3 linked regions of the Homo sapiens genome follow. The protein of the gene in region 2 purifies or fractionates together with the protein of the main gene of each other region. This does not show direct contact. Each region holds a gene or a part of one and is shown on either strand. Other genes may lie near its edges.

The links.
Region 1: the proteins of SEC31A (region 2) and SEC23IP purify together in Homo sapiens (affinity purification with mass spectrometry; 3 studies listed by BioGRID and IntAct, with this or other methods). This does not show direct contact.
Region 3: the proteins of SEC31A (region 2) and NOP14 purify together in Homo sapiens (affinity purification with mass spectrometry; 3 studies listed by BioGRID and IntAct, with this or other methods). This does not show direct contact.

What each region holds. Positions count from the first base shown.
Region 1 is NC_000010.11:119,902,653-119,906,403, reverse strand, and holds part of SEC23IP (SEC23-interacting protein), read right to left. Parts: intron 3,606-3,751; coding exon 3,395-3,605; intron 2,321-3,394; coding exon 2,127-2,320; intron 1-2,126. UniProt on the Homo sapiens protein: Plays a role in the organization of endoplasmic reticulum exit sites. Specifically binds to phosphatidylinositol 3-phosphate (PI(3)P), phosphatidylinositol 4-phosphate (PI(4)P) and phosphatidylinositol 5-phosphate (PI(5)P).
Region 2 is NC_000004.12:82,884,548-82,888,298, forward strand, and holds part of SEC31A (protein transport protein Sec31A), read right to left. Parts: intron 1-3,751. UniProt on the Homo sapiens protein: Component of the coat protein complex II (COPII) which promotes the formation of transport vesicles from the endoplasmic reticulum (ER).
Region 3 is NC_000004.12:2,961,369-2,965,119, forward strand, and holds the start of NOP14 (nucleolar protein 14), read right to left. Parts: upstream 2,039-3,751; 5' UTR 1,952-2,038; coding exon 1,757-1,951; intron 1-1,756. Other genes in the region: GRK4 (G protein-coupled receptor kinase 4), read left to right, coding at 2,703-2,754. UniProt on the Homo sapiens protein: Involved in nucleolar processing of pre-18S ribosomal RNA. Has a role in the nuclear export of 40S pre-ribosomal subunit to the cytoplasm.

The sequences.
Region 1 (3,751 bases), on a different chromosome or scaffold from region 2:
GTGAATTTTGATTGGGATTGCCTAAAATTTATCTGATAATTTGGGAAGAATTGACATCTTTTATGATAGTGCCTACATGAACATAATGTTTAGCTCCGTTTCTTTTTTTTTTTTTTTTTTCTGAGACAAGGTCTTGCTCTGTTGCCCAGGCTAAAGTGCTGTGACACGATCACAGTTCACTGCAGCCTCAAGATCCCAGGCTCAAGCAATCCTACTGCCTCTGCCTCCTGAGTAGCTAAGACCACAGGCATGGGCCACCATGCCCAGCTAATTTTTTTGTGTGTATTTTTTGTAGAGACGGGGTTTTTCCATGTTGTCCAGGCTGGTCTGGAACTCCTGAGCTGAAGCAACCCACCCACCTTGGCCTCCCAGAGTGCTGGGATTACAGGCAGGAGCCACCACGCCCAGCCTAGCTCCATTTCTTGAGGTCACCTTTTACGTTCTTCAGTGTTCCATAAAGTTTACCGGTACTTTTCTTGGGCTTTTTTCCTACATTGCCTGTAGTTTTATAAATATATAGTCTCTCTGTTATAAATACATAGTATCTTCTTTTTCTATTTTTAATTGGTTATTTCTATGGCACAGGAATGTTACTAATTTACGTATGTTAATTTTATATACACGGACTTGCAAAAAAACTCTTGTATTGGTGCTAATATTTCTAGAGGTTCTCCTGATTTTCCACGTAGACAATAATCATGTCTTCATCAAATTAAAGGTGTTCTCTGTCTCCAACCCTTCCGTTGTTTTGTCTTAGTGCTCTGACAGAAGAGGATCACCAACAGGATGCTGAGCAATACGTATCATTTTGTTCCCTTTCTATTATCGGCTTTCTCACTTCCTAACCTCCTCTGCCTCTTCCCTGATCTGGTTTGAGTTTCCTGGAAGAAGCCGAACAAAAGCTAAGGTCTCCCTAGGTAGCCATGTGTTGCTGCAGTGGTCAGTATGTGGATATCTATCCCGCTTCAAAGTCTATGTCACCCATATAAAATCAAATATAGTTAAGAGAAAGTGTAGACTTTCAGACACTGCTTGGACTTGAAAATATATACTTCAGCTTCAAAATAGTAAAACTAAACATTTAATCTGGGGACATGATAGCTTCGTAGGGGCCTACCAAAAAGGTACCAAAAATTACAATATATCTTTATTTGTTTATTTATATCTAAAATTAAGCTATAGATATCAGCATTCCTTTACACTTTTTTCTTTATATATATACACACACACATATATGCACATATACAAATATATACTTTTTTTTTTTCTGAGGAAGGGTCTCATTCCCATTGCCCAGGCTGGAGTGCAGTGGCATGATCTCAGCTCCCTGCAGCCTCAACTTCCCTGGCACAGGTGATCCTTCCTCTTCAGCCTCCCGAGTAGCTCGGACTACTAGCGTGTGCCACCACGCCTGGCTAGTTTTTGTATTTTTAGTAGAGACATGGTTTCGCCATGTTGGTCAGGCTGGTCTCAAAACTCCTGGCCTCAAGTGATCTGCTCACCTAGGCCTCCCATAGTGCTGGGATTATAGGCACGAGCCACCACACCCAGCCAGAAGTTAACTAAAATGTTCTGTATCTCATTTCCTATCTATGCAACTGAATTCACTGAACGTATTTCAAATATCTAACATTCAACTCTTAAGTAGAATTAACACAAGCATTTAACACAATTATATAAAACAACATATAATTTCTTGAAGAAATTATAGATTTAAGATGGCTAATAAGACTCAAGACACTTCTTCCAATTCTATTTATTTATTTTCACAAATCAGAGGTTAATTTCAAGCCTTTTACTGAATACTAATTTGAAAATGTCCATATGCTTGGCATCTTCTATCAACAACAAATCCCAGCGGCCTAGGTTCTATTGAAGGCTTGACACAAGCACCTTATTAGATCTGTGATGTGTCTCTGCAAATCATATTCTATCTTTAGACACAGATGCCACGATTAGCACCTCATGAGTGATGACACCACTTAAAAAGTAATCTTCTCTGTGAACAGCATCAAAACAAGCTGTCTTGTAAGTAAAGTCCGCTCCACTGTGAATGATGTTACTCACCAATGTATATAGGACCTACATTTTTTAAAGAAACTCATAAAGAAATAAAGCACCCGTACCTCTAGTTTTTCACTGAACTCCTCAGTATAGGGAATAAATCGACTATCTGTGTCCCCCTTGTAAAACCAAGTACAGCGTCTCACTTCGGCTGGCTCCTCTTCCCAGTAGGCAGCCTTCCTTATTCGGTCATAGAGGTAAACATCGTAGCGCCCTCCATCCGTGCCAAGAACCACGCTCTCCGGATCTGGCTGAACTAGAGAACAAAATTAACACTTTTCCTAACTGCTGCAAGGCATATTGTAAAATAATAAATAATCTGCTGGGCGCAGTGGCTCATGCCTGTAATCCCAGCACCCTGGGAGGCCGAGAGAGGTGGATCACTTGCGGTCAGGAGTTTGAGACCAGCCTGGCCAATGGTGAAACCTCCCTGTCTACTAAAAATACAACAATTAGCCAGGCGTGGTGGCACACGCCTATAATCCCAGCTACTTGGGAGGCTGAGGCATAGTAGTTTGAACCCAAGAAGCAGAGGTTGCAGTGAGTCCAGATTGCGCTACTGCTCTCCAGCCTGGGCAGCAGAGTGAGACTCTGTCTCAAGAAAATAAAAATGAAATAATAAATAATGAATACGGTGACTACTCAATCTTTAAAGACAAAAAACTAGGCTCATTTTTATTTCAAAATAGAAGTTTAAGATTAATCTGTGCTGCTCAAAATTATGACTCTTAAGTAGAAAAGAAACAGCTAGGGCAAACTTTAAAAACATAATTCAAAGAACTGATGGATTTTTTTTATCAGAACAATAATATCTACATACAATAATACAGTGATATAATAATATATCAGGATAAACAAAGAAACACATTTCTACACTGCAGGACTTCTCAAAGCATTAATGTACTCCTGCACACCATCTCTCTCAAGACCTAGATACAGAGAGCAGCATTTCCAAAACTCATCTGACCAGGGAACCCTTTTTTCACAGAGCATCTCCAGGATAGAGAGTTCCACAGAATGCCCTTTATAAATGCCCCCATAACTACAAATGAACAAGGGAAACAGAAAAATTGAAACCTGGATTATATGAACTGCTCAACTTCTCTGATTCAAAATACCTTTAAACTACGAAGTAAATTACTAAAACATTTCTTCAAATACCTTACCCAGGTAACTCAGGACTTATACTAATATCGTCACCTTAAGGTACAGAGTCTGGGGTCTATAAGGATTAAGGTATTTGACATTCACAGAAAATAGATCATGAATAAATGATCTCATTCCTTCTCTTCCTAAAATCAGATATGAATGATGTATGACCAATGTTTACCTGAATTATAGATTTCTTCAAGATTCAAAGAGTCGAACACACTAAAAGGCATCCACAGTTGTTTGTATTCTACCTCCTTGCAGTAAAACCAGTGGGGCTGAACAGGCTCATATTGGTTTTGAAGTAGAAAAGGAGATGGCACTTGAACAGAGGGAGCCCCAGGTCTGGCAGGTACCTGCTGCTGTGCCGGTGACTGCACTGAAGAAGGAACCTGGAGGGGACGGCAAAGTTAAGACTGTCATGCTTGTCCAAAAGAATTCTGAATATGCTTCACACCCAAACTGATGTTAGTAGATTATCCTACATGTATATCTGGACAATTACTTAGTGTAATAACTAGACCCCAAAGCAATTTTA
Region 2 (3,751 bases):
ACATGAACACATCATTATCACTGAAACTCCACAATTTATATGAGGGCTCACTCTAGGTGTTGTATATTCTATGGGTTTTGACAAATGTATAACAACATGTATCTGTCATTATAGTATCACACAGAGTAGTTCCCTTGTCCTAAAATCCCCTATGCCTATAATTCCTCCTTTCCTTTCAATAGAGCCTATATAGTGAATTTTTGTGAATTGTTCTTGGGACCTAGAAAGAAGGGGTGCTCTCTGTTTTCAGGGCCTAGAGCTCAATATATATTAACTAAGTCCTCTTTATTGATTTGTTTAGATCTCCTATATCCTTACTTTTTTGTCCACTTGATCTGCCTTGGACCGAAACAGTGAATTAAGTCTCTTACTGCTAATATATTTATGTCAATTTCTCATGGTATCTCCTGAAACTTTTGCTTTATGAAAATTACTTTGTTATTTAATAGTTATTTGGTGCATATCCATAATGTTCAAATTCACTGTCAAATATACACTTTAGCTTTATGAATATCCTTCTTTGTCTCAAATAATGACTTTTGGTCTGAATTCCACCTCTTGTTTGCCTTTACATGTATACTTTTGCCCTTCAGAACTACTTTGTCATCATTACAAACAAAATAACAAACAAAAAACCAACAGATTTTACTGGTGATCCAATTTGAAAATCTTTTCACAGTAGGTTAGCTAAGGACATTTAAAATGTATTGACATGACAGACATGGTTGGTCTTAGTTTTACCATATTTTACTTTGGTTTAATATCTTTGGGTAATAATTTTTAAAAAGTCTTTCATTGTCTGTTTTCTTTTTTGTGCAATTACCATTTTTCTGATAATTAGGATGATGTATATTTTCATTATAATATGTGTTTCTGATTCTATCTTTTTAACTGTAATTTTAAATATTTTACTTAATACCATTAATCCTCTATTTCTTTACACAGAAACTATTAACTCCCTACTATGAGCACTTATGAAATTAGCTTGTATAATCTTACTGCCCATCCACACAACATGGTTATAGTCAATAGTATTATCTTTCTCAGTGTTTACCTTTGAACTCCTTATACTTCTACTAACTGATCTGTCAGCTTTAAATGATGTCCTTTGACTCATAGCCATTACAGATGTGGCAATTCACAAACTTATTCTACCTCCAATTTCTTTCCTCTTCTCTTTTTATTAGTTGTATAATCAATCCCTTACATTATTGGACATTTAACATTTACATTTTATTCTTTCTTCCTCATTCTCACTTTTGTTCCAGTCTCAGTCCTGCAGTTAAAATGCATACTCAATGCTCTCCAAGAGTATTTTTGCCAGTTTCCTTACTCAGCTCCAGAGTTTATCCTCTAACATTTTCCTTAAGATTGCCTTAAACATATGCTCCGAGTCTTGTACCTGCAAATTGTTTATATTTGAAGGAGATTTTATAGAGGAAAAAATTAAGACACAGAAAGTTAGACAATCTGTACATGCTAGCAAGGGGGCAAGGGGCAGAGCCAAGATTGGAACTTGCAAGTTTAGCTCCAGAGTTCTTTCTACTTCCAACAAGTTCAGGTATTCAATTTTTATATCATAGAGGAAATATTAACATTTAGAAGAAACAATAACAAAGCAACCAGCATGCATGATGAAACTGAAGAAATGCATTTTAGAAATTGTGTTAGGTTAGAGCAAAGTGAGATTAGGAGGCAGGATGTATCACATGGTTAAAAGCATGGTCTCTGGAGTTAATCCTCAATTTAACTACTGGCTCTGTTACTTATTAGCTATGATACTTTGGACACATTATTTAACCTCCCTGAGCCCCAGTTTCTACATTCGTAAAATAGGGAAAAGAGTGACAACCTCATGGGATGCTGTGAGGTTCCAATGAGATCATACGTTTTATAATAGGGAGCCAAAAAAAGTGCTCAGCACATGGGTTAGTGCTTTTGATAGGTTTGCTATTTTTAAAGATTACCACTATCATGAGATTAAACAAGAAAACTTCAGGGTTATTTGGGGGGAAAAATTCCAACTTTCTAAGATATAAAAAAGGCATTTATTTTCTTACATGAATCTCCTCTTCTTCCTCTTTGCCAACTGTCTCACCTGATCTTTAATAATAAATTCAAGTTCCAGCTCCTCCATGAAAACTGCCCTGATGATTCAATCCACATTGATCTAAATACTCCCCGACAAGTTTGTACTTGTCAATACTATGATTTAAGCATTTTATAATAACGTCATTATATTTTAATAAACATTTTGTAACATTCTACTAGCACATATTGTTTACATATTTTCCAATTACCTTTTTTTAACCAGTTGCCTTATGTGCTATCTTATCTCACCAACTAGACAAATAACGTCTTTTTTCAAAACTTTTACCCCTTTTTAGACTCAAAATTGCTTAGCACAGAAGGAGATATACAGAAAGTTTTGATTTATTTTAAATGTTTATATTTAGGGGAAAACAAGTAGACTAATGAGCTAGAGTGACCAGTTTCAGATAAAACATTTACTTTTAAATTCTTAACTCTTTAAAGGATCATTTACTTTTTAAAAAAGGAGAAAGTATGGTTAAGGGGGAAAAGGTTATAAGATGCCTTCAGAATAATTTCTAAAAGTGAAATCAAAATAGCTGTATTATTAAAAAAATGGAATACAATTATAGTATTTCTAAGACCTAAGTACAAGGACTACCTAATTCATTAATGCTTGGTTAATGTGTAACATTGACTGAAAAAGAAAGAGACACATTTATAAGAACATAAAATAGTTAAATGTGAATTCAAAGCATTTACTAAAGTTTATTTCTTAGCCTTAGTACTCAATGTTCTAAGAAAACATTGAGAAAAGAAAAGAAAAGAAAAGAAAAAAGAAAGGAAAAGAAAATTGTGTGGGCTTGTTCATACATGCCATCTCCAAGACAGTATCTATAGCACGGCAATTAAGAGCATGGGGTCTAGGGCAGACACCCTCAGTTTAAATTCCAGCTTCACTATGTCCACCTCTGACTTTAATCATGTCGCTTTATCCATGTATGTCCTGGCTCCTCTCTCATTAAAATAAGGAGAACAGTATCTATACTACAGGGTTGTTGTGAGAAATAAGTGGTATTACTCAGAGTGGTTAGAACAGTGCCTGGCATATATAAACAAATGCTCATAAATGACAGTTATTACAAACATCACTACTTAAAACGTCTACCACCACGAAACTTCAAAAATACATCTATTAGGCCGGGCGCGGTGGCTCACGCCTGTAATCCCAGCACTTTGGGAGGTCGAGGCGGGCGGATCACGAGGTCAGGAGATCGAGACCACGGTGAAACCCCGTCTCTACTAAAAATACAAAAAATTAGCCGGGCGCAGTGGCGGGCGCCTGTAGTCCCAGCTACTCGGGAGGCTGAGGCAGGAGAATGGCGTGAACCCGGGAGGCAGAGCTTGCAGTAAGCTGAGATCATGCGACTGCACTCCAGCCTGGGTGACAGAGCAAGACTCTGTCTCAAAACAAACAAACAAACAAACAAACAACAACAAAAAAAACATCTATTAGCCAGGCGCAGTGGCTCATGCCTGTAATCCCAGCACTTTGGGAGGCCGAGGTGGGCAGATCACTTGAGGCCGGAAGTTCGGGACCAGCCTGGCCAACATGGCGAAACCCCGTCTCCACTAAAAAATACAAAAACTAGCCGGGCGTGGTGGTGTGTACCTGTAATCCCAGCTACTCAGGAGGCCGAGGCAGAAGAATCGCTTGAAC
Region 3 (3,751 bases), about 80 Mb from region 2:
GGCACAGCTATAAAGCAATGTCCTGAGACTGGCACCTGGGGGCTGCCCTCTTCCTGCCAGACTGAGTGCCTCAGAGTGCTACAACTGACCAGAGGGGAGAAGCCAACTGAGGCAGCCTGTTTACTTCTAAGGGACTAACCCACATGAAAAGACCCAGGCCTCCTGCGCCGGCCTCACGGCCCCTACACGCGTTATCAAGCTTGGAGTCAACTGGACGACCTGCTGTCCCTCAGACAGCTGTGAGTGCCACACTTCACCATACCGGGACAATGTGCCTTTGCATGTGTGTCCTCTGCCCACCCTGGGCCCATGAACAGCTCACTCCCCTTGCAAAACTTGACTGTAACTCCCTCTAGAAGAATTTTTGGACTTTCCTAACTATTACACTTTTTCCTGACCGGGATCTCCTAAGGCACTCAGGTTCCATCTTTGATTTCTTCAAATATTTGTGTTTCTTCCAAGGGCCAAGCATTGGAGATCCAAAAAGGAGCAGCAATTCCCGTCCCCGTCCCAGGCCTTCAGCACAGGGCAGGGAGGTGGATCTGCTCAATACCAGAAGTTTGAGCAACCTGTCCTATTTGGGTTACATAGCTTGGGTGGTGAACCTGAGCTGGCCCTTTAGAGACTTTCGGAGGTAAGGCAGACCTTTTGGACAAACTGAGTTGCAAGAGGCGAAGCAAGGACAACAGCCAGACTGTGCGGGACTCGAACGACAAGCCAAGAAGGTTAAGAATAACAGTATTTAGAGAACACTTGCTGTGTGCTCTATGTGCTATCTTACTTAATTCTCACAAACCACCACGAGGGGTAGGATGTATACTATCATCTCTACTTTTGAAATGAGAAAACTGAGGCTTCAGTGGTGAAGACAAATGTGTCTCTTCTAGGGAACCACACTACCTTATTCTCCCACCCCGGCCCGGGGGTGTGTAATGAGGGACTCCTATCGAAGTCAGCTGTAAGTCTATCTTGCCTATTCATTATACAGGCTGTCGTCTTCGCGCAGTAAGGATAATATGTGTTTTGATTCAAAGACCATCCAGCTTGCACACTGTGATGAACAGAGATCAGGAGCTCATGAAGGCAAGGGCAAGTCTTATTTACCTTTATCTCCCCGAACCTAGAAGCGAGGTCAAACAGAAGCGCTCGGGGTAGCAAGAAGGCTTTGTAGATATTGAAATGTGAATGCATGCCCAGCCCTTACCAGGTGCGTGACCTTAGGAAATGCACTTGTCCTTTCTGTGCCTTAATTTTTTCACCAACCTGCTAATGTATGTTCCTCAGTGAAAATTTAAAAAAAAAAAAGTTAAAAAAACTAGGAAGCAATGAGTTTCCATAGAGTTACTTCCCAAGGAACAAGGTTACGCGCTTCGGGAGAGAGCCGATGAAACATCAAACGCAGCATCCTACACAGCCCCTATCCACCGTCCCCAAACCTGCAGAGCTCAAAGTAAACGCGGAAGGGTTAACAAGCAGCTTGGTCCAGGGCGCCGCCCGAAGTGACTGACTCGGCCTGACCCGGTTGGAGGAGTCGCCGAAATAACACGAGTGCAGGGTCTCCAAGACGGCGAGAGTTTCCAGGTCACTCCAGCTCAGAGAACAGCAGAGGCTTTCGGACTATCAAGTCAGTGCCGTGTGCCTGTCACGGCCTGTGCCGCTCAACGAGGAAACCGACGCACCGAGAAGGACGCAGCCGGCCGAGAGCAGCGTGGGGTCCAGATCCTGCCTTCCGGCTCCCCGTGCGCCCCCCGCTTACCTTCCTGAGGGCCCGTGCGCGAGACACCCCGGGCAGTCCCACGTCGTGGCGCGTCTTCCGGCCCAGGATCTGGAACTTCTGCCTGTTAACTTTCACCTCGAACGGATTGGAGTTGGCCTTCGCCGGGCCCCCTCGCGCTCCCGCCGGCGCCCCGGAGGCCTTCCTTCGCGCCCCGACCTTCTTCGCCTTCGCCATGGCGCGCGCCCCGCTGCGCCCAAGGGCCCGAGACCCGAAGAGAGACAGGCGCGCGCTACCCTAAGACACGTGCCGGGCCGCGGAACCGCTTCCTCGTCTCGCGAGAACAGCGCAGCACCTCCGACTCGCGAGAAGTAAACACCGCGCCCGCAGGCTCGGCTTACTCGCCGATAGGCTCAGCGACTACAACTCCCAGCAGGCCACGCGCCGCGGCCCGCCGTGTACTCTTGGCGCAGGGCCTTCTGGGAGCTGTAGTGCCCCGGCCGCGGCGGCGAGGGGCGCTCCCTCTTCAGCTAAGCCGTTAGCGCCGAGCCCGCCCGGGAGCGGGTCGCCGGCCGCGGCGGGCGCCCCTGCCAGTGAGCCCCTGTCCGAAGTGAGCCACGGCATTGACTCGGGGCTGCCCGGGGGCAGGGCACTGAGGAGGGAGTTGCGCGCGCGAGGCGAGGGCGATGGGGCCAAGAAGAACCGGGGCGATAGCGCGGCAGCGGTGACAGCTGGGACCCGCCGCGGTCGGGCTGCCCCCTCCCCTCGCCCCGACCGCTCCCCTGCTGGTGAGGGCCTGCGGAGGCGGCGGCGGCGGCGCCCTTGGTGGCAGTGGTGGCGGCGGAGCAGCCTCCCGGGATCGTGTCCGGAGCTCGAGGAGAGGGTGGTGCCCGGCGAGCTATGCACGGGGGCGGCGGCGTCTCCTCCTGTTCCGCCTCCTCAGTCTCCTCGGTCTCGCAGAATCCGCCGGCGGCGGCGGCGCCAGGACATGGAGCTCGAGAACATCGTGGCCAACTCGCTGCTGCTGAAAGCGCGTCAAGGTGGGTGCGCGGCAGGCGCCCCCGACCCCCCCCCCAGAGAACCCCGAATCCCGGGGAACCCTGGCCCCCCTGAAGGAACCCGACATCCCCGGAGAACCCCGATTTCCCTGGAGAGCCCCGACACCTCCCACTGGGGGAACCCAGATCTGCACGGAGCCGGAGCCGGGGTCTGTGCAGTGTGGTCAGGCTGCCCGGGCCAGGTCCCAGTCCCCATCTCCTGGCCCAGATGAGAGAAGTCTGCGCTTTGCTCTTCTTAGTCTTGCCCTGTGTCCTTGTCCTGTCCTCTCGGTGTGACCTCGGTGACAGTGTTGCTTCAGGATGCGGCAGGCAGTGTCCTGCTTGTGTTGGACAACCTGTCCCACCAAAAAAGAACGGCGTCTTTATGGTCTTAAGGGGGACAAAGAATAGCAGCCTGGGAACTACTCTGGGCGAGAACCTTCCGATAATGATTGTAGGGCAATGTTATTTTTAACATAGCTGCTTGGTTTTGAGGTTTGATCTGAGGCTCTATGGTGTGTCAAGTGTGCTTTAGCACGACGTGGTCACAGATGGACAAGTTGGCAAAAATTCAGCCTTTTATCATTATTAAAGTGAGGCAGAAATTTAAAAATAGTAATAAGTACTGCATTCATTCACTCCAAGAAAAGAAAAAGCCAAGGCCCAGAATGTGGCAAGGCAAGGGTTAAAAAGAAAAGAAGAACAAGTTTTCTTTTGCTTAGCAAGCTCACTTTAAGGACAGTTATAAGATAACGCTGTTCTGTTTGAGAAGTCGAATCCAAAGGAATAGGCTCCAGACACCCCCCTTCCAGAGCAGGGGTGAAGAAAAAAAAAAAAGAGGACAAATATCTGTGTTTAGCCAGTTCTTGGTTTTTTCTTTCAACGCAGCTACAAGGCCACCAGCTATGCAAGGCCACAAGTTATGCCAAGTCATCAGTTATGCTATAGATTATGTGACCTGTCATTATATGATTAACTGCCTTTGTTTTGCTTCTGTAAG